7 linked regions of the Homo sapiens genome follow. The protein of the gene in region 3 interacts with the protein of the main gene of each other region in a biochemical or structural test. Each region holds a gene or a part of one and is shown on either strand. Other genes may lie near its edges. The genes, in order: BIRC3, CUL4B, GLMN, FKBP4, CUL1, OGT and RNF7.

Region 1 (2,710 bases), on a different chromosome or scaffold from region 3:
TATTTATTAAGACATGGTCTTACTATGTTGCCCAGACTGGTCTTGAGCTCCTAGACTCAAACGATCCACCTGCCTTGGCCTCCTAAAGTTCTGGGATTACAGGTGTGAACCACTGCATCTGGTCTTGAATTTTCTTAGTAACATACATAGTGTCTACTATGATGTGCAAGACAACAAAAGGAGGTGACATCTTCTCCAATAGGAGCTGAATATGGTTCAATCACATTGCCTGTGACCACAAAGGAACTTAATGGCTAATGGTATCAAGCGATATAAGGAAATTAAGAGAAAGGTTGGAATGGAAGCTATAATGAGCATGGCTGAAGTATGAAATTAAGCCTGCTGCAAAGTCCTGTATGATCACACTTAATATATTGAGGTTTAAACCCAATGACTGAAGACCACGTTGGCTGGTAGGTGGGGTTGGAGGCAATCAAATGGATTAATGCATGTCAAGCACCTGAAAACATCTGACATTTGGTCAGCAAATAGATCTACCATTATTATCTATGGTGATTTATTTTTTCCAAAACAAAATGTCAAAATAACACTTAGGGAAATAACATATTTGAATAAATGGGTTGGTTATAATAGCTATTTATTACCATAATGAGAAATGAACAAAAGTTTTACAGTGAGATGACAAAGTTCAAATATTATCTGTAGTATACAAGAACTAGATAAAAAAAAAAACACATGGTGCAAAAAGGGTGCCTACTATTTAAATACCCTATACCTGAGTTACAAATCACCTAAGCACAATTACAAATAATTCAGCCTAGCACCCATGCAGGACACTGGCTAGTACATGGGTAGCCAGCAGAGCCTCTTAGCAGAGGCAAAATCAATTGCATTTCAAGGAAATAAGTCTCCCAGCATCAGAATGCAGAGATGGATTCTTTCCTCCCCTCACTTGGTCCCTAATTGTTCTCTTTACAACACTAGCAGATGTTGGGGCTCAGAAAACCCAAAGTGAAGGCCTCAGAAGCAAAGTTTTTCTCTGATGTTATCCTGCCCTCCTGTCTCAGCCTCATTCTCCCTGAAGGCAAGCCACAGAAACTTGAATTCCTCTTCCCCAAGGTAGGTCATAGAAACTGGAACCATCTTTCCACAATGCCAGACTTACATCTTAAAGATAGTACTCTAATCTTTCCTCACCTAACTATGTAAGAGCTGGCCATAAATAAATTCTCTGACCTACCTTGCTTGATAGCAGGTTATAATATCCCCATCCCATACAGGCCCTGCCCTATATCCAGGAGGAAGGAATGCTGCACAGAGACCAAGAATAATCTGAACAGACAGGCCTTGCTGGGTCCCCAACCTGTGTCTATTCCCATTAGATCATATCCTTTTTTTCCAATCACTATTCTTCAGGGCTGTCCATTCATTATCAAACCTAAGCATAAAAATGCACAGTTTCCCCTGTAATTTTGGATCTTCATTACGAAGGCTCCCCGGTGATGTAAATCTGTGATTAAATAAATTTGTTAAGTTTTTCTCTTGTTAACCTGTCTTTTGTTATAGGATTGTCAGCTGTGACCCTTATGAAGGGGTCTTTCCCTTCTGCCCTTACAGAGCCATCTGCCCCTATACAGACATCTAGAACTGGTTTAGATGACTAGCCTTTGCCTGCCTTCCCCTGAGTATTCCCTATTACAGTCTTACTTCTGCTCTTGAAGACCTAATACCTCTATAAGAAGCAAAGGACAGAGTTATGACTCGGACGTGTTGAGTACCAATAACATAATGCAGAGGGGGACATTTTGTTGCACTGACAATATGAAACAGATTTATTTACCAGAACAACCTGTTGGTCCCAAGCATTGCTAACCAGTGTACTTTCTAAGTTTCAGAATTAATACCAAAGAGATAAGAATAAAACTCAGACCTTCTTCCAATAGGTGGGGCTGGCATGAGACTTCTTGAATGAATCAATAGAGAAGTGAATAAACAAACTTACTAAAGGGACTGTTTGATTCTTGTCTCAGGCATTCCATAATAGATTTTATGATGTGTTGACCCCGTGTTCTACAAGTGTCAATGAAGAAGCATCTTATGGGAAGGAGTATAAACTGTAGTTCAATATTTGAGAGGCTTTAAGAAGGTATGGAAAGAGTCTGGGAGTGACTAAACTATCCAATGTCATTGAAATAAAGCAATGAAGAATAAGAGTAATTTTTGTTGCTTTATTAAATTTTTTCTCACAGAATTCTTTATAAAAACACCATGTCCCTAAAATGTCATTCAACATATATGCACACCTTCGATGTATAGGACACTGATCAAAAAAGACAGAGAAATGTGTCCCTGGTGTTTTGTTTTTGTTCTGTTTGTTTTTAAAGGCAGGGTCTCAGTATGCTGCCCAGGATGGATTCAAACTCCTGGGCTCAAGTAATTCTCTTGCCTCAGCCTGGGACTACAGGCACATACCACCACACCTGGCTTCATGTTCCCGGTATTAGTACAATGCCAAAATATTTAAAATTCTTAAAGGTTAACTCAAATATCTTAAGTTTTACTTCACTTACAATTTCAATAATGCTGAAATTTTGATTGAATATTGTGTTTGTAGTGCTACCTCTTTTTCGTTCATAAGAACAAAAGCCTATCATTCTCTTAGTTTCTAAAAAATATATGTTCATATGGTTTAGATACATATATAAATATGTTACACAAAACAATGTTTTTTGAGTTGTAAATAAATAAA
Region 2 (3,303 bases), on a different chromosome or scaffold from region 3:
GTACTAAATGTCAGAATTGTATACTTTATCATGGTTAGAATGGTAAATTTTGTGTGTACTTTACCACAATAAAAAATTTAAAAATTAAAGAAAAGTTTTGAAATTAGAGAACAAATGAAGAGGATCTGTTGTTGTTATAGCTGGCAAAACTATTAAGTTCTAACATGCCAGTGCAGCACATTCTTATATTTTACATCCAATAGAAACGGTTTTACAAAAGAAAGGTCAGAGTCTTTTTCACTATGCTAGAGATGACTTCTAAGGATTGTTAAACATAAAGGTACATTATGTGTCCATTCAAAAGAAGAAATACCCTTTTTTATAATAGCAAGGGGAAAAAGGAAAATAATTGAGCAAAGTGTTTGATTTCAACCAAGTGTTTGCAGGTGAACAAACTTCAGTATTCAAATGTAAAGCAGGTGTTTTTTTGTAGGACACTGAAAAATATTCATTAATGAAGCATTAGCAAGATATCATTTTACAAAGCATAATTATGCAAATTTTCATCAGTACTGCTCTTTTCTTTTTAATGAACAATTTGTTTTGGCAATTTTATGTAAATAAGAGAATAGAACACGCTCACAACACTCCTGCCATTCACAGCATTAAACAGAGTGGTCATGAAAACAAAGACCAGCTCATTTTAAAAGATTTATGAATATCCAGATTAAAAAACAAACTTCTCAAATCTTTAGATCCAGATGCCCAGATAAACTGGTTTTCTGAACTGTACACTCACATACACAGCAAAAATTTCAAGAGTATGGCTAGACATCATATTAAGACCATTCAAGCAGACTCAGGAACTGGGTTCAAAAACTTTGAGGAACATCTTACTCTGAGAGTATCTGGCCCAGAACTCAAAAAACTATTAACAGAAAAGGCAGAGCAAATGCCATAACTAAGAGTAATCTTTTCTTCTCCCCTGAACTCAAATCTAGACTCATTTCATATTGACTTTATGAAACAATTTGACACTGAGGATTTGAATGAAGCAATGTTTATACTTGTATCCGCATGTTTAAGAATAATTATCCACCTTGAGGATTCCTGGGAATTTTCCTCACCCTGTTAACCATGCCCTCCCCCATACTCTTATAGCATTACCACAAAACCATTACAAAATTTTTAAAAAGTTTAAAAATAACAAAATCAACAAATGTGAGTTCATTAGAAGTTGTTAGGAAGATTTTAAGTCCTGTGATTTTATAACTTTCTTACAATACTTGAATTTTAAAGATCTTCTCTAGAAACTTTTTTTAAATAAAAGTTTTATTGGAGAAAAATAGAACCACCACGTACACAGGGAAAAGAGCACAAAAATTCAACTGATACAGAACAACAACTGAAAGTCACAATTATCCAATGTAGTTTGCAATTACTTTTCAGTTTCTTAAACAGCTCCCCTCAACTTTTTTTTTTTAACAGTCTTGCTAATTTTTCAGCTGAAACAGCATCAAGTTTTCAAAGAATTAAGAGCCTCGGGGAGGGGACCCGCTTTCAAGATACTGAAGGTGACATCAAGAGTCTCCTCCTAACAGGACCAACTCTATCTAAAAGTTGCTTACGAGTAACTTGAATCTTGTGTAATAGTCTACATCTCACAGACCATCAGGGATGAGTTAGAACACTGTTGTTGATGGTCCGGTATGAAGAGAGGGTAAACAAAATAGCTGCATTTGCTTGTCAGCTGAGCTCATATAAAGAAATCAGTGAGGAGCTGAGAAAATATAGGCAATGGCTGCTCAATAAGAATTACAAGTTCCGAATACCACATATAGTTAGACACCAGTGTGCAAGTTGATGCAACTAGAAAGAAATAGACGACTTTTTAAAATACCTGGCCACAGGTCTTTGAGAACTCAAGCAAACAATCAACAGTAGACACAAGAGTCAAAAATCTTCTCAGGTTGAAGATTAGGACATAGGTAATCTTCCTAACGGCTCCAACAGGCAAGGAAATATGCTGTGGCAAAAAGCATTAAGTAGTTCTGATTTTTAACAAACATAAACAAAATTTTCTGCTTCTCCTCCCTTCAAAGCTTCAAGGAAATAGAAACAAGGAAACAAAATAAAAACAAAAAAAAATCAGTGACAGTAAAGAGAAGCCTTTGCTTGAATTATCAATTCGAAAAACAGTACTTTTGCCATTTTGTATATATAAACAATCTTGGGACATTCTCCTGAAAACTAGGTGTCCAGTGGCTAAGAGAACTCGATTTCAAGCAATTCTGAAAGGAAAACCAGCATGACACAGAATCTCAAATTCCCAAACAGGGGCTCTGTGGGAAAAATGAGGGAGGACCTTTGTATCTAGGGTTTTAGCAAGTTAAAATGAAGATGACAGGAAAGGCTTATTTATCAACAAAGAGAAGAGTTGGGATGCTTCTAAAAAAAACTTTGGTAGAGAAAATAGGAATGCTAAATCCTAGGAAGCCTGTAACAATCTACAATTGGTCCAAGTTGAAGACAAAACTGTCCAAACAACATTTAAAGTCTAAAGTATGTTGAAAACTAGTTGCAAAGTTTTTGCTCCTGTAACAATTTACAAAACACGTTCATTTTGGTCTCTTTTGCAATTTTCTTATTGTATTCATTTTTAATATAAAGAGTTGGATTTTTCTCTTCTATGATGTTCCTCTAGTACAACTGATCATTAATTTTCTACTTTAGCTATTTTTATAAGTACTTGTTAATCAGCACAGTTAACTTGGGGCTAAGCCATATACACACATCCCATACTCATAAATGAAAATTTTTAGGATGTGAATATACAAGATATTATGTAAGCAACTGTCCCCCTACTTGAAAACTTGTTTCCAAATAATTTTTTTTAAAAAACATCCCTTTCAGTGTAACAGAACATCACCTAGTAAAATATCAATAGCTATGACAATTCATTTCTCTTTTCAAGGGAAATCACAAAACGGGTGAACAACCAAGTCAAGGGTGGTTTTTCTATTTGATAAATACATCCAGAACTCTGTACAGTAAATAAAGTTTGCATGCAGTTTAAGTATCTTTAAATGACATTTTAAGCAAATAAACCTTTTGCTTCATAATTAATGGTGTGTAAGAACCCTCCCCCCTTTTTAATAGCCACAGGGATCTCTTTCCCAGTTCCAAAGAGGAATTCATGAAGACCAGGTACGTTCTTAAGTGTTTTCTGCACATCATACTAAATAACATGCAAAGAGTTCAACAACATTCTTCTTAAAGGTAAGTATTACTCTTTAAAATGGGCATGTTAACCACTGAGAAAAAGTCCACTCAACTATTTCCATTAATTACACTGCTTCATTT
Region 3 (3,500 bases):
GCAAGCTCTGCTTCCTGGGTTCATGTCATTCTCCTGTCTCAGCCCCCCAAGTAGCTGGGGCTACAGGCACCCGCCACCATGCCTGGCTAATTTTTTGCCTTTTTTTTTTTTTTTTTTAGTAGAGATGGGGTTTCACCATGTTAGCCAGGATGGTCTCGATCTCCTGACCTCGTGATCCGCCCACCTCAGCCTCCCAAAGTGCTGGGATTACAGGCGTGAGCCACCGCACCCCGTCTTTTCTTTTCTTTTTTTTTTTTTTTTTAAGCATGGTGGCTCATGCCTGTAATCCCAACACTTTGGGAGGCTGAGGTGGGTGGATCACTTGAGCTCAGGAGTTCAAGACCAGCCTGGGCAACACGGCCAAACCCTGTGTATAAAATACAAAAATTAGCTGGGTCTGGTGGCACACGCTTGTAGCCCCAGCTACTTGGGAGGATGAGTGGGAGGATGGCTTGAGCCTGGGAGGCGAGGTAGCAGTGAGTTGTGATCACACCACTGCAAACCAGCCTGGGTGACAGAGACAGACCCTATCTCAAAAAAATATATAAATAATGAAAAAGCAGATCTAACCCATCTGACAAGAGATTAATAACCAGAATAGAAAAGAAGCTCAAACAACACTAAAGGAAAAAATCTAATAATCCGATTAAAAAATTGGCAAAAGATTTGAATAGACATTTCCCAAAAGGCATACAAATGGCAAACAAGCATATGAAAAGGTACGCATCATTATCATCAGAGAAATGCAAATCAAAACTACAATGGGATATCATCTCACCCCAGTTAAAATGGCTTATATACAAAAGACAGTCAATAACAAATGCTGGCAAGGATGTGGAGAAAAGGAAACCCTCATATATTGTCGCGACATGTATTGTCGCGATCTCAGCTCACTGCAAGCTCCACCTCCTGGGTTCACGTCATTCTCCTGTCTCAGCCTCCCAAGTAGCTGGGGCTACAGGTGCCCGCCACCACTCCCGGCTAATTTTTTGTATTTTTTTTTTTAGATATTGTTGGTAGGAATGTAAATTACTACAACCATTAATGAGAACAGTTTGGCAGTTCCTCAAAAAATACAAAAATAGAGCTACCATATGATCCAGCAATCCCACTGCTGGGTATATACCCAAAAGAAAGGATATCACTATATTGAAGAGATATTTGCACTCCCATGTTCATTGCAGCACTATTTACAATATCTCAGATATGGAAGCAACCTAAGTGTCCATCAACAGATGAATGGATAAAGAAAATGTGGTACACATACACAATGGAGTACTATTTGGCCACAAAAATGAATGACATCCTGTCATTTGCAATAACATGGATGGGACTGTAGACCATTATGTTAAGTGAAAGAAGTCAGGCACAGAAAAACATTGAACGTTCTCACTTTTTTGTGGGATCTGAAAACCAAAACAACTGAACTCACGGACGTAGAGAGTAGGAGGATGGTTACCAGAGGCTGAAAATGGTAGTGGGAGGCAGGGAAGATGGCTAATGGGTACCAAAAAAAAAAAAAAAAGTTATAAGTAATGAATAAGACCTACTATTTGATAGCACAACAGGGTGACTATAGTCAATAACTAATTGTACATTTTAAAGTAAATGAGTATAATTGGTTTGTTTGTAACACAGAGGATAAATGCTTGAGGGGATGGATACCCCATTCTCTATGATATTCTTATTACACATTGCATGTCTATATCAAAACATCTCATGTACCCATCAATATATATGCCTTCTATGTACCCACAAAAATTAGAATTTTTTTAAAAAAAATCTGATCTAGGAAGAAGACAAAATGACACCTATAATACCTCATCTTGACCCCAGTCTTGTAAGATAATAAAAATAGAGTATACGATACAGTAGTCTCCCCACTTATCTGCAGGGGGTACATTCCAGGACCCCCAGTGGATGCCTGAAACCATGAATAGTACCAAACACTATATATAAATACTATACATGCATATCTGTGACAAAGTTTAATTTATGAGATTAACAATAACTACAACAATTATAATATACTGTAATAAATAGTATGTGAATGGTCTCTCACAAAGCAGTAAATAGTAAATCTTTTTATTTTTATTTTTTTTCTTTAATTCAGTCTTATAGGTGAAGATAATAGTAAATCTTGGTCAATTTTGATAGTGTCACCTGGCAAGAAAATTAAATTGTAGTCAGTTTTTTGTTGTTGTTGTTGTTGAGATGGGGTCTCACTGTTTCCCAGGCTGGAGTGCAGTGGTACGATCTTGGCTCACTGCAGCCTCCACCTCCTGGGTTCAAGCAATCCCCCCATCTCAGTCTCCCGAGTAGCTGGGATTACAGGGGCGCACCATCACGCCCAGCTAATTTTTGCATTTTTAGTGGAGACAGGGTTTCACCATGTTGGCCAGGCTGGTCTCGAACTCCTGACCTTAGGTGATCCACCCGCCTCGGCCTCCCAAAGTGCTGGGATTATAGGCATGAACCACTGTGCCCAGCCTGTAGTCAGTTTTGAACATTGTCTTATCAATATCTAAACCTTTGCATTTAGCTGACCACATATTGCAAAGGTGATTCTCAAACTATTAAGACTAAGCCTCACATGTTTAAATCTATCCCATTAGCTATTCAGAAGCATGCTAAAAATAAAACGCTAAGGCATGCAATGCCTGAAAAATACTTTGTTTATACTTCCCTTTTCCTTCTGCCTCACTGATGTGGTGCTGATCCTCATCTCCTTGGCAGGCCTCTTCTCTCTACCTGTTTCTTAAATTCTTCAAGATGGGATCTTGGGCCTCTTCTCTTCTGCCCCTTTTATGTGAACTCAGGTAAATTCTTGTTTTTTTTTTTCACTCCTCAATGCTTCAATTACCCAATCTTTAGGTAATTAAAGTCTCACAGATATGTGTCTCAGAGATCTACATCTTAATTCCTCTATCTCTACTGAGCTCAAAACCTTATTTTCCAATTGACTGCTGTACTTAAACTCAAAATTTCTAAAAGTCAACTCACTTGTTCCTTCAGAAAACTTTTCCCTCTACTTAGGTTGCCTTTTTCTGTTTGATATCATATGTTATCCTTTTAGAGGCTAGAAACCCAGTCATTTTTGATGCCTCTCCCTCTCAATCAAGCAATCCCCTGTATTCTACCCTAAAACCATACGCCATACAGCACTAACCAGAGGTAGAGCAGAGTGGTTAGGAGCTCCAAAACCATGCTACACAGGTCTGAATCTTGGATGTTACATAAAAGCTGACTTACTTTTGGGCAAGTCATTTAACTTTTCAGTTACAAAATGAACACCTACCTTCTGAGATTTTGGAGAGACTAATTAAGTTAATAAATGTAAAGGACTAAAGACAGCATCTGGTACATGTAAACATGCAATAAATATTAGTTGTTATTAATTTTTTTATTATTAGCTGAAAGCTAAGTACTTTAGAAGGTTATCCTGAGAACGCAATTAGAAAAAAATCAAGAAGAGTTTAAAAAACATAAGATTTATTATA
Region 4 (3,500 bases), on a different chromosome or scaffold from region 3:
CTGTGATGTGAGGTAAGCCCAGTAAGAAAGCAGTTACACAGGGACTTTTTTAAAAAAGAGATGGTCTCACTCTCTTGCCCAGGCTGGCGTGCAGTGGCACAGTCACAGTTCTCTGCATCCTTGGTGTCTTGGGCTCAAGGGATACTCACACTGGGAGACTTGTACACCCCAATTTTAATCCTGGCTCCAGCATCAGCTGTGTTGTATGACTTGGTGAAAATTTTCACACAGAAATACATCTTCCACCATTATACATTTCTTCTGGAAGGAACTATACAGGCATGTGGCTAAGCAGACAACCACATCGCTGTTGGGAAAGGACTGGAGAGCTCACAGTAGGAGAGAGGGATGAGGGCAGACACGGGCTCTGGCCTGGAGCCAGGATTATCTGGAGGCAGCTCAGCATGACTGGCTTGTGCTGCCTGGCTTCTCCCAGGGCCCCATCATGCCATAGGAGTTAAGGGTCAAAGCATAGTTAGAAAAAAAGCACAAGCCTTTTCCTGTTAAGGCTGAGAAGGAAGCTGGACGTGAACACTCTGCTTTACTCTTAACCTTAATCATGTAAGTTATCTGACAGGAGGAGGTCAGTGACACCAGGAGTTTTACCTTGTTAACAAACCAAAATGCAGATACCTCTGCCAGATCAGAGGTAGGCAGAAGACCAATTCCAACTTCAAAATGAACATGCATGGTGTCCCAGTCTTCTAGATCTTTATACTTTCGTCTTCCTAAGTGTCAGGGAAGAAAACCAGAGGCACTAAAACTGCCAGGTTGCTGGAGGGAGGGAGTGCTGGGAACCTTGGGCGAAGCCATAGACACAAATCCCAGCGGCAGCCTGTGCAGTGCTCAGGAAGCCATGCATGGTGGGGCTGCTTCCTGCCCAACTATGGCATCTACATGAGATGCTCACTTATTTAAGCTCAACTGGAACTAAGTGGGTGACCCCTTGATTGTGCTACTACCCATTATGTACCCACCCATACCCACCACTCCAAGGCTGAACAGAAAGGGTTGTCTGACACCCAGGTTTTATTGTTTCCACTTTATTGCTCAAGCATGGAACTTGAGGCAAGCCTGGACCTTCAGCAACGTGCAGAGAAGAGGCTGAGGGGATTTTGGGACACAACCTGGCCGAGAGGGGAAACTGACAGGGGAAATACCAGAACAGGGAACAGGGGGTGGTCACCATGACACCAGAAGACATCATCAGCCACACCGTCGGGGGTGAGGAAGGGAACAGAGAGAAGAAATGGCATAGCAGTGGTTTTTCCCATGTCCCTAGCACCCACATGGAGGCCACATTTGGAAATGGACTGGGAGAGGGAAAGGATGAGGAAAACGGCTGCCCAGGAGTCTCCCTCTCCACCCTGGGTTCTTATCAGACCTCATCCCTACCACTTGCCTCTTCTACCCTTAGAAAATGGACCTAACAGAGGGAGCAAAATAAATTAACATTCTGATGAATATATATGGATGGACATATGTTCATGTGCAATGGAGGAAGGGAAGAGGGGCTGACACCAGCTAAAATGATTCCCCACCTCAATCCCCCAGCCTACACCTTTCCCCCTTCCCCTAAAGCCACCATCCAACCAGATAGAAAAATAAAGGTCTAATTCACTCAAAATTCTTCAGTTTTTACAAAACTAACAGGGTGGAGTGGGGAGACTGGGGGGCAGGCAGCCGCAGGAGTAGGGCTGGTGGAGAGGGGCTATGCTTCTGTCTCCACCTGAGACTGGCTCCCTGCCGTGTTGCTCTTCTGCTCCTCCTTCATCTCTGTGTCAGTGGGATGGTCTCCTGAGGAAGCCTCTGCCTTGGCCTGCAAGGAAGATGAACAGCAAACGGGCTGACTTCCCAAGTGAAAAAACACACACTTAATTTCCAGCAGAATTACACAGATACACCCATTCTCCTACATCTGTCCTAAAGCTATACCTGTATAGGCCAAGCCTGGTGGCTTATGCCTGTAATCCCAGCACTTTGGGAGGCTGAGGTGGTCAGATTGCTTGAGCCCAGAAGTTTGAGATCAGCCTGGGCAACATGGTGAAACCTCATCTCAACAAAAATTACAAAAATTACCTGGGCGTGGTGGCATGCACCTGTAGTCCCAGCTACTCGGGAGGCTGAGACAAGAGGATCACTTGAGCCCTGGAGGCAGAGGTTACAGTGAACTGAGACTGTGCCACTGCACTCCAGCCTGGGCGGCAGGGCAAGAGACACTGTCTCAAACAAAACAAAACAGAACACTTGTATATGTACAAATTATGAACTCATGAGGTTATTCACTGCAATGCTGTTCTAAGCAGCACTGTCCCGTATGGTAGCCACTACTGTAAGTGGCTAGTTCAAACTCGTGTTTTTAGTGCAAAATATACATTGGATTTTGAAGATGGTTTGAAAAATACACAAATGCAACTAAAATTTAATTCCATTTGTTTTTCACCTTTTTAACATGGTTACCAGAAAATTTTGAATTACATGTGGTTGATACTGTATTTCTACTGGACAGTGCTGGTTTAGAACACTGTTTAAGACTGGCTGGGTGTGGTGGCTCACACCTGTAATCCCACCACTTTGGGAGGCAGGGGTGGGCAGATCACTAAAGTCAGGAGTTCGAGAGCCTGGTCAACATGATGAAACTTCGTCTGTACTAAAAATACAAAAATTAGCCGGGTGTGGTGGCGGGCGCCTGTAATCCCAGCTACTCGGGAGGCCGAGGCAGGAGAATCGCTTGAACCCAGGAGGTGGAGTTTGCAGTGAGCCAAGATCATGCCATTGCACTCCAGCCTGGGCAACAAGAACGAAACTCTGTCTCAGAAAAAGAAAAAAAATAAAACCACTGGAAGACTAAAAAGGGACTGATTGACTAAGACAAGCCATATCCATACAATGGAATACAATGTAAGCCTAAGAAAGAATGTAAAAGTTCTTTAAATACGGATGTAAAATAAGCCTCCAGCTACTATTACGTGAAAAAAGCATAGTATGCGCCAAATCATAGGTGGAGCACGTTGCCTGTGTTAGGGGAAAGGGAGGAAGCAACAGGAACGTCTGCCTGTGCCTTGACGCAATACACTGGACCATCCAAGACCCTGAAGGGGCAGCTGCTTCTGGTGGGGGAGGCAGACTTGACTGTATACTTTGGTACAGTTTGAATTTAACTAAGTGTATTATTTATTTAATCACACACAAAAAGCATCTCGCTTTTCTTTTTTTGAGATGGGGTTTCATTTTGTCACTCAGGCTGGGGTGCAGTGGTGCCATCCTAAGTCACTGAGGTCTCTACCTACTGGGTTCAAGTGATCCTCCCACTTTGGCTCTGCAAAGTGCTGGGATTGCAGGTGTGAGCCACGGCGCCTGGCCCACAAGAAAACATAAATCGGGAATTACACTCAGGGCAACCAACCCAACTTCTGGGGCTTGTGGGTAGGTTTCCCGCACTGATCACAGAACACTGGCCCCAACAGCAGGAACACGTGCTCCTTAATGCTCCAGGGAAA
Region 5 (3,500 bases), on a different chromosome or scaffold from region 3:
CATACTGTTCTCATAGTAGTGAATAGTCTCACGAGATCTGATGGTTTTATAAGGGGTTTCCGCTTTTGCTTGGCTCTCATTCTGTCTTGCCTGCCGCCATCTAAGATGTGCCTTCTGCCATGGTTGTGAGGCCTTCCCAGCCACGTGGAACTGTTGAGCCCATTACACTTCCTTTGCTTTATAAATTACCCAGTCTCAGGTAGGTCTTTATCAGCAGTATGAAAACAGACTAATACAGGACCATACTTTGAAAACCAATGGACCAAAAAAACCCCTTTCATTGACTGAAGAAACGTATATTACTGAGGGTGATTTAGTAATTAATTAATTCAGGGTCCTCTCCATGAAGCAGCGTTTCCCAGACTCTAAAGCATGGGAGGGCTAATCCTCAGGGCTCGCCCTCAGGTATGGCACCTGATTTGCCTGGGACTACCAGGACTCAGGACTTTCAGTGCGAAAACTCAGGCAGTTCCAGGCAAACTGTGATGGTAGGGTCAGGTAATTAAAGAAGAAATTTTTAAAAAGCAAATGCAGAAATGGGCAAATTGTATTTTAGAACTCCAATTTACCCATTCTTCTACTTTCTTGCTAAAAAATATTTAAGTGACATTTATTGATAAAACAATGAAAATTAGTTTACTATTCTGAAAAAAGCTTAATATTTGCCTAGATTCTCTTGCTGAAAGACAATTTGCCATTAAAAAAAACAAAAACAAAAACAAATTTAAAACGTTTTAAAACAAAACTCTTACCGAATAGATTTCATATATTCCTTTTCGTCCTTCGTCACATTCACGGCGAACCCAATGTCTATTGAGGTAGGCACAAATTCCATTCAGCACTTTGCTTGAAAATCGATAATCTTCCCATTGTTGAGTGTAGAATTTCAGTACACTCTCATCCATCAAATCTTCTCCATCCTAAAAACAAGTTAACTAAAGCTTTAAGATGACTAATTTGTCACATTATAAATTAAAAATAACGGTGAATAACATCTACTGTATTAAAATACATTGACACATGTGATTTTAGATGGCTTCTTTAAATTATTCTGTATACAAAAACATGCTAATATATATAAACTCACAAGAATATAGTAAAATAATTCTTTCATCTCAAATTAAACTGGAACATTTTTCATGGTATTAAATATGCAAACACACTCAAAAAAAGTACCCTGAACATTTGATATGCGGGTAATTCCTTTTTATTAAGAAATATACCACAAAATCATCTGTATTTTTGATATTTGTTTAAAAAAAAATTGGCTGGGTACAGTGGCTCACACCTCTAATCTCAGCACTTTGGGAGGCCGAGGTGGGCAGATCACTTGAGGTCAGGAGTTCAAGACCAGCCTGGCCAACATGGTGAAACCCTGTCTCTACTAAAAATACAAAAATTAGCCGGGGCGTGGTGGCACATGCCTGTAGTCCCAGCTACTTGGGAGGCTGAGGCAGGGGACTCGCTTGAACCCAGGAGGCGGAGGTTGCAGTGAGCCAAGATCGCACCACTGCACTCTAGCCTGGGCGACAGAGCAAGACTCCGCCGCACCCCTTCCCAAAAAAAAAAGAAATCAACATGTCCTACTTAGCAATTCAGACAATGAGACTAATACTATTCAATTTTTACATGCATCTTCTTCCTTCTTTAAATTTACTTAAAAACCATAAAAACACTTTTTTGTGGTGATCTGTAAAAATAAGGTAAGTACAATAGTATAACAATATTTCAAGAAAATGTGCATTTACGAAAATTATTTTTATCCAGATTTCCACAACTTGAGTCACAAATTTTTATTTGAAGGAGACTAACCGGAATTTTTTTTCTTAGGGATTAATGGCATCTACAAAGTAAACCTTACCCTTTAAAAACGTTAATGGTACTGTATGGCAGCACTGCCATTTAGGTGTGTGCAGCAGAGAAGCACGAAAGAGGAAGGTGGGGGCAGGAGGGCTGCAGGAAGGGCTGGGGCGAGCCCACTGGCTTCTCTGAGCCTCAGTGTCTTCAATGAAAACTAAATGGCTACAACAGACTGGAAGCTCCACATGTATAAGGTACACGAGTGACCAAACAAGCCATGTAAAAACCGGATCATCTCTTGAGACAAATAATTTTTTGTTCATTTAAATTTAAATAATATGAAATGAACTTTAAAATGTAAAGCTAAGCTATTTTGGATGATGGTACTTGACCTTTTTAAAATGCAAAAATATCACTGATGGCATGGTCATCAACCTTTTTACTTAGCACAATATACTGTTTCTTACTTTAGTACTAAAGAATAATTAATTAATTACAACATTCACTTTATGATGTGTTGTGAATAAAAAGAACAGTGGCTTCAGCAAGACCTTAGAAACACCATTTGGGGAAGATGAAAATAATACACTAGTCACAACTTATGGCCAGCCAACTACATACAGTCTGTTAGCAAGATGTTTTAAAGTTTTCAATTAGCTTGCAAAAATAAATTAGGTAAAACAATTTTGCAGCATGCAGAATTTTTGCACATTGTGTAAATAAAAAATATTTAAAATATATACACAGAAGAGTTCCTGCAAATTTCCCTGGGGTCACAGTATAGACGTCTTCACTCTTTGACAGTGTAGAACCAGATGAAGGACCCACTTGCTCATCTTGTGGCTAGATACAAGGAGTCACACTGCCTTTGCTACAAAGGATGAAGACCAAGGAAGAAAAGGCGGGAGATGAAGGGGAAAAGACTCCACCACACTGCCCAACCAAAGGCTTGGAGTGGGAGGGACCTACGCTAGAAGGAAATGGATATTCACAGTGAAACTCATCGTAGTCACGAGCACAATTTCACAGCAGTTTTGAAATACACGTCATGGCCAGGCACTGTGGCTCACACCTGTAATCCCAACACTTCGGGAGGTGGAGGTGGAGGACTGCTTGAGCCCAGGAGTTGGAGACCAGCCTGGGCAACATAAAGAGACCCTGATTCTACAAAAGATTTAAAAATTAGCTGGGAGCTGGGTATGGTGGTACATGCCAGTAGTCCTAGCTACTCAGAAGGCTAAGGCGGGAGGATTGTTTGATCCCAGGAGTTGGAGGCTGCAATGACCTATGATTGCACTACTGCACTCCAGCCTGGGTGACAGAACAAGACCCTGTCTTAAAAAAAAAAAAGGAAAAGAAAAAAAGTACTTCATAACCATGTGTAAAGAGCAAGATCACATTTGAAAAACATGGTTTCCAAGACTGAATAACCTTACAATTATTTCTACACCTTGATAGGGAACACCACATTGGGTTCACAGTAAAATGCAGATAATTTGAATACATATTTGCTTTAAATGAAAAAGTTCATCATTTCTAACAACCAAATCCAAAATGGTTGGTAATTTAACGAAAGCACTATTATGCTAAAAGGTTATCAAAGCTTTCTAATTTTAAAAAACAGAAAGAGCTGGGCACGGTGGTGAGCATTTGCAGAGTCTCAGCTACTCAGGAGGCCGAAGTGGAAGGATCACTTGAGC
Region 6 (3,500 bases), on a different chromosome or scaffold from region 3:
TATATACACTGAGTGTCTCAGAAAAGATAGACAAGAAATTAGTTTCATTTGCTACCTCCAAGAGTGCTAACTGGAGGTATTCACTGTATCCATTCAAAAACCAATAAATTTAGAAGCTGGGTGTGGTGGCACACACCTATAGTCCCAGCTACTCTGGAGGCTGAGGCAGGAGGACTGCTTGAGCCCAGGAGTATGAGTACAGCCTGGGCAACATAGCAAGACTCCATCTCTTAAAAAAAAATGTTTTTTAAAGCAATGGATTTTCTAAAAAGGACACGTTTAAACTCTCAAAATTAACTACAAAAATTGTTAATAGATATCATCATGAGAAGTGACTTCGGATCTTTGAACAAACTACTAAATTTAGTTTCAGTTTCCTAACCAAAAAATAAGGGACAGCAAAATATGATCAATGGTTTTTTAACTGTGCTCAAGGGCTGCTTTGATGGGTGAGTGCCCTCTGGGCACATCATCCCACTTTTATTTCTTTTCACTTCAACATTTGCTTTGAGGATATTCAGACTCAGGTTTTAATATCTATTAATACTTCATTACTAGCTTTGTCCCCATGAAAGCCACATAACCCTGAGTCCATGGTTTTTTTTTAATTGATAAAAATCAGAAATAATATCATCTATTTTGAAGAATTATTGTGAGGATTAACTAAGACCAATCATTTAAAGCTGTCAGTAGAGTGTCTGACCACACAGACTTTCAGTAAACGGTAGCTAAAATAAACTATTAGCCATTTCCAGGTTGGTTACAAAACTGAATGTTGACAATGTAACTTGGGAACTTTTTCTAGATTTCTATAACCCCACTATCATTTACCTCTTAAGTTTACATCTACTTTCTCTAACTACATCATAAGTTCTGAGGGAAAGTCTTATGTTTTTGTATCTTTCGGAGATCCTAAACACAGTATGAATTTAAGGTCTGCCAGCTGAGCCTTACTTGTTCCCAGAACACATCTGCAACTTAGACAAAAAAAATTTTTAAACTAATCAAAAGCCCAGTATAAGTAGTATCATCTAAATTCTATGACTTCTAATTACATTGAAAGAGAAGAGAATAGGATATTGAGGAAGAAATTTTGTAGCCTAATTTTCACATCATTCCATATAGTGGCATCTTGTTTCAAACTATTTTATATTACAGATTTTACAGATTAAGACCCATTATCCACCATTCCTTGAAAATCAATTAACTTGCAAACACTTATCAGAATTTATCCAAAGTTAATCACAACAGAAAAAAGTCATGTGCTCTGTACTTTATACGTGTTATTTTAAAATTGATGTAGTTTCTTGCAATAAGAATTTTTATGCTTTTTAATATAACTTGCTAAATAAAACAAATATTTTAGCATAACGCAGACCAGCTAAAAGCAATTTCACCATTTTAAGTACATACGCATTTCTAAACTTTTGACTTTATTCCATGTGAAAACCTACTTTAGTGTCTGAAATATCACACTATGTTTCTTTCTGGGTTTCTAGGAAGGGAAAGTAACCATTAAAATTTTACTCACAGGATTGTACTGAAGAGCAGAGACGTAAGCTTGTACTGCCCCTTCCATGTCACCCGCTGCTACCAAGGCGGCTGCCAGGTTAATATAACCATCGATGAAATCAGGTTTGAGACGCAATGCATGTCGATAATGCTCAATTGCCTCCTGCAACTGCCCTCTTTCCTTGTACACATTCCCCAAATTCGAATAAGCTTCTGCCAGAAGGGGGTTCTGTTTAATTGCCAGAGTGCTAAAGTGAGCAGATCTGGAAAAGGCGACAAGTGTTAATGCATGGGTATGCACGTTACAGAAAAGAAGGTATGGCCCATATGCAACTCAAACAGTTTGAGATCTGTGCTATTGCTCATTATATAATACCTTATCTTTTAACTAGTGCATAGCAAGAAAAATTTGGGAAATCAAAGATTTTCAAAAGTGGAGGTATTCTAGATTTCAAAATGAAAAGCTTTTTCTTATTAAATAAAATTATTGGCTGGGCGCAGTGGCTCACGCCTGTAATCCCAGCACTTTGGGAGGCTGAGGCGGGAGGATCACCTGAGGTCAGGTGTTCGAGACCAGCCTGGCCAATATGGTGAAACCCCGTCTCCACTAAAAATACAAAAATTTAGCCACGCATGATGGCAGGCGCCTGTAATCTCAACTACTCAGGAGGCTGAGGCAGGAGAATCGCTTGAACCCGGGAGGCGGAGGTTGCAGTGAGCTGAGATTGCGCCACTGCACTCCAGCCTGGGTGACAAGAGCAAAACTCCACCTCAAAAAAAAGAAAAAAATTCTAACTAGAGTCTTGTTACAAAACTACCACATTGGCCGGGCGCGGTGGCTGATGTCTGTAATCCCAGCACTTTGGGAAGCCAATGCGAGCAGATCACCTGAGGTCGGGAGTTTGAGACCAGCCTGACCAACATGGAGAAACCCCGTTTCTACTAAAAATACAAAAATTAGCTGGGCGTGGTGGCACATGCCTGTAATCCCAGCTACTCAGGAGGCTGAGGCAGAAGAATCGCTTGAACCCAGGAGGCAGAGTTGCAGTGAGCCGAGATGGCGCCGCTGCACTCCAGCCTAGGCAACAAGAGCGAAACTCCGTCTCAAAAAAAAAAAAAAAAAAAAAAACCCACCACATTGGAAATCATGATCATTAAGATAAAAAATGGAAAGCTATGTGCACGAGTCTCATTTTCCATTTAAGATTTAATGATGCACATCTTTAAGTGTCTAAATATGCCAGAATAACAATTATTAAAAGGACAGGAACACAAATTCTTCCCTTTTGATTAATTCAACTGATTAACTAAAAGCAACACACCATAACAACTTAATGAAACTCCAGGTATGCATCTCCTGCCACAGCATACATAACCATCATTTCTGAGCATTTCAGTCCCTCAAACTGACAGGTCTCATGAAAGGGAGACTGGATGCTCAGATATACATTGATAATAATTTATTACCTGAACAGAGTCTAGAAAGCAGCAGACCCAGATAGAAAAATCTAGAAAAGGTCCCTAGTCATACTGATAATATAACCACCACCACAAAAGGAAGGAGAAAAACTGGCAGCTGGGCATGTCACAAGTGGGCAAGAGAGCAGATGTGCGTTGGCGGCTCAGTTGAAACCCGGTACTGGAAAAATTTCAAGTTCAAATATTTAAGTATCATTTTTCAAGCTCAGCACCCAGAGGCAGCAATCACGAGCAGGTACCCCAACATCTCCTACCTGTCCAGCCTTCGACACTGGAAGTGTATAGATGAAAGTAATAAAAGCACACCAGTATTGTCTGGCTCTTGTCTCCAGAGCTGCATGCAGTGTCTCTCAGCTGCCTCAAAATCTCCTGCCTGATATTCTCGATGTGCCAACTCAGCTAACCCTTGGAAGGAAAGCATACGTTTCGTTGGTTCTGGAGAATCATCAAAACATTTGAGGGAAGGAGGGGGGAAAACAAAAAGTTAGAAATGTAAACCAAAAAAATGT
Region 7 (3,381 bases), on a different chromosome or scaffold from region 3:
AGACCCAGCCTTGGTCATTTTGGTGTCCCCAGTGCATAACTCCTTGCACAGAGGAGATAGTAATTGTGGGATTGAAGAAAACCTCAGGAGGCAGTGGTTGTTTTTAATCCACACTGAAGAGACTAGGGCAGTGGTGTTTTTTTAAGGGTAAGAGCATGTGGAAAGGAGCAAACAAATGCCTGAGCAGAATCCAGTGTAAGAAGAGAAGCAGGCTTCAACTTAACCGTGTTTCTATTTTTACAGAATTATTTTTCTCCTATTTATGTTAAAAACTATTTTCTGTTGGTTCAAACTTCCTTTTACCCAACTCTGACTCCTCTTCCAGCTAGTGAATGAGTCCATTTTTGCTCCCTAAAATATTCTATATTACTTTTTTCATTAAGCTGATAGTATTCCAGATTGAATTTTGAAAACTTCTAGTACAGCCTTTAGGATCTCATTTTTAGTATTTACACCTACTCCACTATATTAGAAGTTACTATAAGCTCACTGGGCATGCTCATGGGCAGTTTATTTTCAAGGCACCCTTTTAAATAACCCATACATATAATGTTAGTATTTGTTTATATATACATCAAGAAATTCTAGAAGGATACCCAAGAAACCAGTAATAAAGTAATTTATTAAAAGACTTTACCATTGTTGGGTAAATACTTTGGGCTCAGACTTATCTGTATTTTCTTTCTTTCTTTTTTTTTTTAAAAAAACTTTTAGGTTCAGGGCTACAAGTACAGGGTTGTTACATAGATAAACTTGTGTCACAAGGGTTTGTTGCACAGATTATTTCATCACCCAGGTATTGAGCCTAGTACCCATTAGTTATTTTTCCTGATCCTCTCCACCTTCCACCCTCCAAAAGGCCCCAGTGTGTGTTGTTCCCTGCTATGTGGCCATGTGTTCTCATCATTTAGCTCTCAAGCATTTTCTTTTTTTTTTTTTTTTTTTTTGAGACGGAGTCTCGCTCTTTCGCCCAGGCTGGAGTGCAGTGGCGCTATCTCGGCTCACTGCAAGCTCTGCCTCCTGGGTTCACGCCATTCTCCTGCCTCAGCCTCCCGAGTAGCTGGGACTACAGGCGCCCACCACCACGCCCGGCTAATTTTTTGTATTTTTAGTAGAGACGGGGTTTCACCATGTTAGCCAGGATGGTCTCCATCTCCTGACCTCGTGATCCGCCCGCCTCAGCCTCCCAAAGTGCTGGGATTACAGGCGAGCATTTTCTTACAAAGAAAAAACCTTAGTGTTTAGGGATATCTAGTATTTACTTATTTTATCTGTAAAATTCTCACCAGTTTGTATCATCCCCACTTAATATATAAATACCTCACAGTATTGTCCCTTTTTTACAGATGAGGGAATTGGAGTTCGTAATTGGTCCGAGGCCCTGAACCTAATAAATGCCAGTGAAATGGGATTTGACTGTAGATCTGGCTCCACAGCCCTCGCTGTCCCCTCTGTCTCACTGGCTTCTCACCAGCCTTGTCTGGATGACCATCGGTAGCAACCTATTGGAAGCATACAAAGCAGTTTATTTTAGAGGAACTCTCAAGTGTCTTAGGGTAGAAAGTAAAAAGTTGCTTCTTATGAGTTGCTAAAGGAAGGCTTCTGTGTCAGTAAGTATGGATGACTTTAAAAAACTTGTTTATGAAGCAATTTTTTAATTTAATTTTTTATAAGTTATATATTCATATAGTTCAGAAATTGAGGAAGTTATGTATATTACCTGGAAGAGTGAAAACTCTCCTTCCCATTCCAAACCCTCCCAGTAAACTTTATTATTGGTTCCTTGGGTATCCTAGTGTTTCTTGATGTATGTATAAACAAATGCTAACATATATATATGGTTTATTTAAAGGGTGTCTTGAAAATAAACTGTCCATGAGCATGCCCAGTAAGCGTATGGTAACTTTGAATATAGTGGAGTATGGCATATTTTTCTCTAGTAGTTTTCTCTCTTGGCACCGTCAGGACATCTTTTCATCAGAGCTTATAAAAATAGAGGATTTGTTAACCCTTGTGAAATTGCTCCTGGTTATAATTAGTAGAATGCCTTGTACTTTATTCCTCTTTAAGTAGTTATGTTCAGATGAGAAATTAATAGTATGAGTCTTTATTGCCATCCCTAACCCTTAGGGCTTTTGACTTTGAAGTGTCTGGTTTTTAAAAATTGCATTCTGAGCATCAGAATGAGAATCGCTATTTGTTTACTTTTAGATGCCTGTCTTAGATGTCAAGCTGAAAACAAACAAGAGGACTGTGTTGGTATGTTGTAATTTTGTTCTCTTGCTTTTTCAACTGAAGGTTTTCTCTCAGTAGGGATGTTTGAATTTGAAATTAAGATTGACTTTATCAATACACAAAAATAAACTGTAAAGCAGTGATCCATTGTTAATATAAAATATGTTGGTTCTCAAAAGAGTTTAATGGAATGAACCTGCAAGTCCTTTTATTGCCATAATTAAGAAGAATTGGTTATATATTCCAGACATGGTCATAATAAACATTTTGGTAATCAAAAATTAAATATTTTCTATTAAGAAAATTATAAAATCAGAAATTTGTCAAAACATTATTTGAATTTTGGCTATGTTATAGGTCACTTTTGGTTCTAATAAGGCATTTCACTTTTCAATACTCTTATAATACAGTATTTAACTTTAAAACCAGAGTAGAAAAATTCTAAGTCTCAAGTATATTTTTGGAATGTGGTTTGTGTATCAAATTTTCTTTAGAGTCTTAGACTACAAAAGTTGTCGTAGGCTAAATATTTTAGGCAGTTCAAAGATTTTTATGCCCTAGTTCTTGAGGTGATCAAGTCTAGATTGCTATATAAACATGTTTATAGATTTTCTTAGAATAAAAGATTGGCTTTGTATTTTGTGTTTGCATGGTGTACGTAGAACACAAATACATGGTGTACATAGAACTTCTTAATATTGATTCTTGCAGTTTTGATCCAGTTCTTCCTCCTGAAACGCTTAGAATGTTTCACCCTTGCTTCCTACCCCCTGTAGCCAATTTTCATAGGCATTTTTTTCTTTTTTTCTGCCTTATTTCTTTCATTTAATCTTTTTCTCTGCCTTATTTCTTTCATTTAATCTTTTTCTCTTGTCATATAGCTCAGTTGATCAAGCAAGGGACAGATGAATCCCAAATTCGAGATTGCATTCTAGATTGTGGATGATTTCCCTTGTTTTAAAGTTTTTCTTTCATGCTGCTTGTTTAAAAAGTATTAATTTGGGAATTGTGAGGGGCAGGCCACTTTCTTTGATCACAGAGAGACCTCTCTCTCCAGCCAGCCACTTTGAAAATTTCATCGTCACATGAGGAATTGCACTGCTTATGGGTGACTTAACACAATTCATCACTTCTAGAAAACAGCTC

The links.
Region 1: the proteins of GLMN (region 3) and BIRC3 form a complex in vitro, tested with the Homo sapiens proteins (one study listed by BioGRID).
Region 2: the proteins of GLMN (region 3) and CUL4B form a complex in vitro, tested with the Homo sapiens proteins (one study listed by BioGRID).
Region 4: the proteins of GLMN (region 3) and FKBP4 form a complex in vitro, tested with the Homo sapiens proteins (2 studies listed by BioGRID).
Region 5: the proteins of GLMN (region 3) and CUL1 form a complex in vitro, tested with the Homo sapiens proteins (one study listed by BioGRID).
Region 6: the proteins of GLMN (region 3) and OGT form a complex in vitro, tested with the Homo sapiens proteins (one large-scale study listed by BioGRID).
Region 7: the proteins of GLMN (region 3) and RNF7 form a complex in vitro, tested with the Homo sapiens proteins (one study listed by BioGRID).

Annotation. Positions count from the first base shown.
Region 1 is NC_000011.10:102,337,194-102,339,903, reverse strand, and holds the end of BIRC3 (baculoviral IAP repeat-containing protein 3), read right to left. Parts: 3' UTR 501-2,710; downstream 1-500. UniProt on the Homo sapiens protein: Multi-functional protein which regulates not only caspases and apoptosis, but also modulates inflammatory signaling and immunity, mitogenic kinase signaling and cell proliferation, as well as cell invasion and metastasis.
Region 2 is NC_000023.11:120,523,358-120,526,660, forward strand, and holds the end of CUL4B (cullin-4B), read right to left. Parts: 3' UTR 501-3,303; downstream 1-500.
Region 3 is NC_000001.11:92,292,488-92,295,987, forward strand, and holds part of GLMN (glomulin), read right to left. Parts: intron 1-3,500.
Region 4 is NC_000012.12:2,801,470-2,804,969, reverse strand, and holds part of FKBP4 (peptidyl-prolyl cis-trans isomerase FKBP4), read right to left. Parts: intron 1,820-3,500; coding exon 1,712-1,819; 3' UTR 1-1,711. UniProt on the Homo sapiens protein: Immunophilin protein with PPIase and co-chaperone activities. Component of steroid receptors heterocomplexes through interaction with heat-shock protein 90 (HSP90).
Region 5 is NC_000007.14:148,754,403-148,757,902, reverse strand, and holds part of CUL1 (cullin-1), read right to left. Parts: intron 921-3,500; coding exon 753-920; intron 1-752. UniProt on the Homo sapiens protein: Core component of multiple cullin-RING-based SCF (SKP1-CUL1-F-box protein) E3 ubiquitin-protein ligase complexes, which mediate the ubiquitination of proteins involved in cell cycle progression, signal transduction and transcription.
Region 6 is NC_000023.11:71,536,104-71,539,603, reverse strand, and holds part of OGT (UDP-N-acetylglucosamine--peptide N-acetylglucosaminyltransferase 110 kDa subunit), read right to left. Parts: intron 3,427-3,500; coding exon 3,246-3,426; intron 1,776-3,245; coding exon 1,532-1,775; intron 1-1,531. UniProt on the Homo sapiens protein: Catalyzes the transfer of a single N-acetylglucosamine from UDP-GlcNAc to a serine or threonine residue in cytoplasmic and nuclear proteins resulting in their modification with a beta-linked N-acetylglucosamine (O-GlcNAc).
Region 7 is NC_000003.12:141,741,298-141,744,678, forward strand, and holds part of RNF7 (RING-box protein 2), read left to right. Parts: intron 1-1,346; exon of another isoform or gene 1,347-1,610; intron 1,611-2,211; coding exon 2,212-2,259; exon of another isoform or gene 2,260-2,260; intron 2,261-3,381. UniProt on the Homo sapiens protein: Catalytic component of multiple cullin-5-RING E3 ubiquitin-protein ligase complexes (ECS complexes), which mediate the ubiquitination and subsequent proteasomal degradation of target proteins.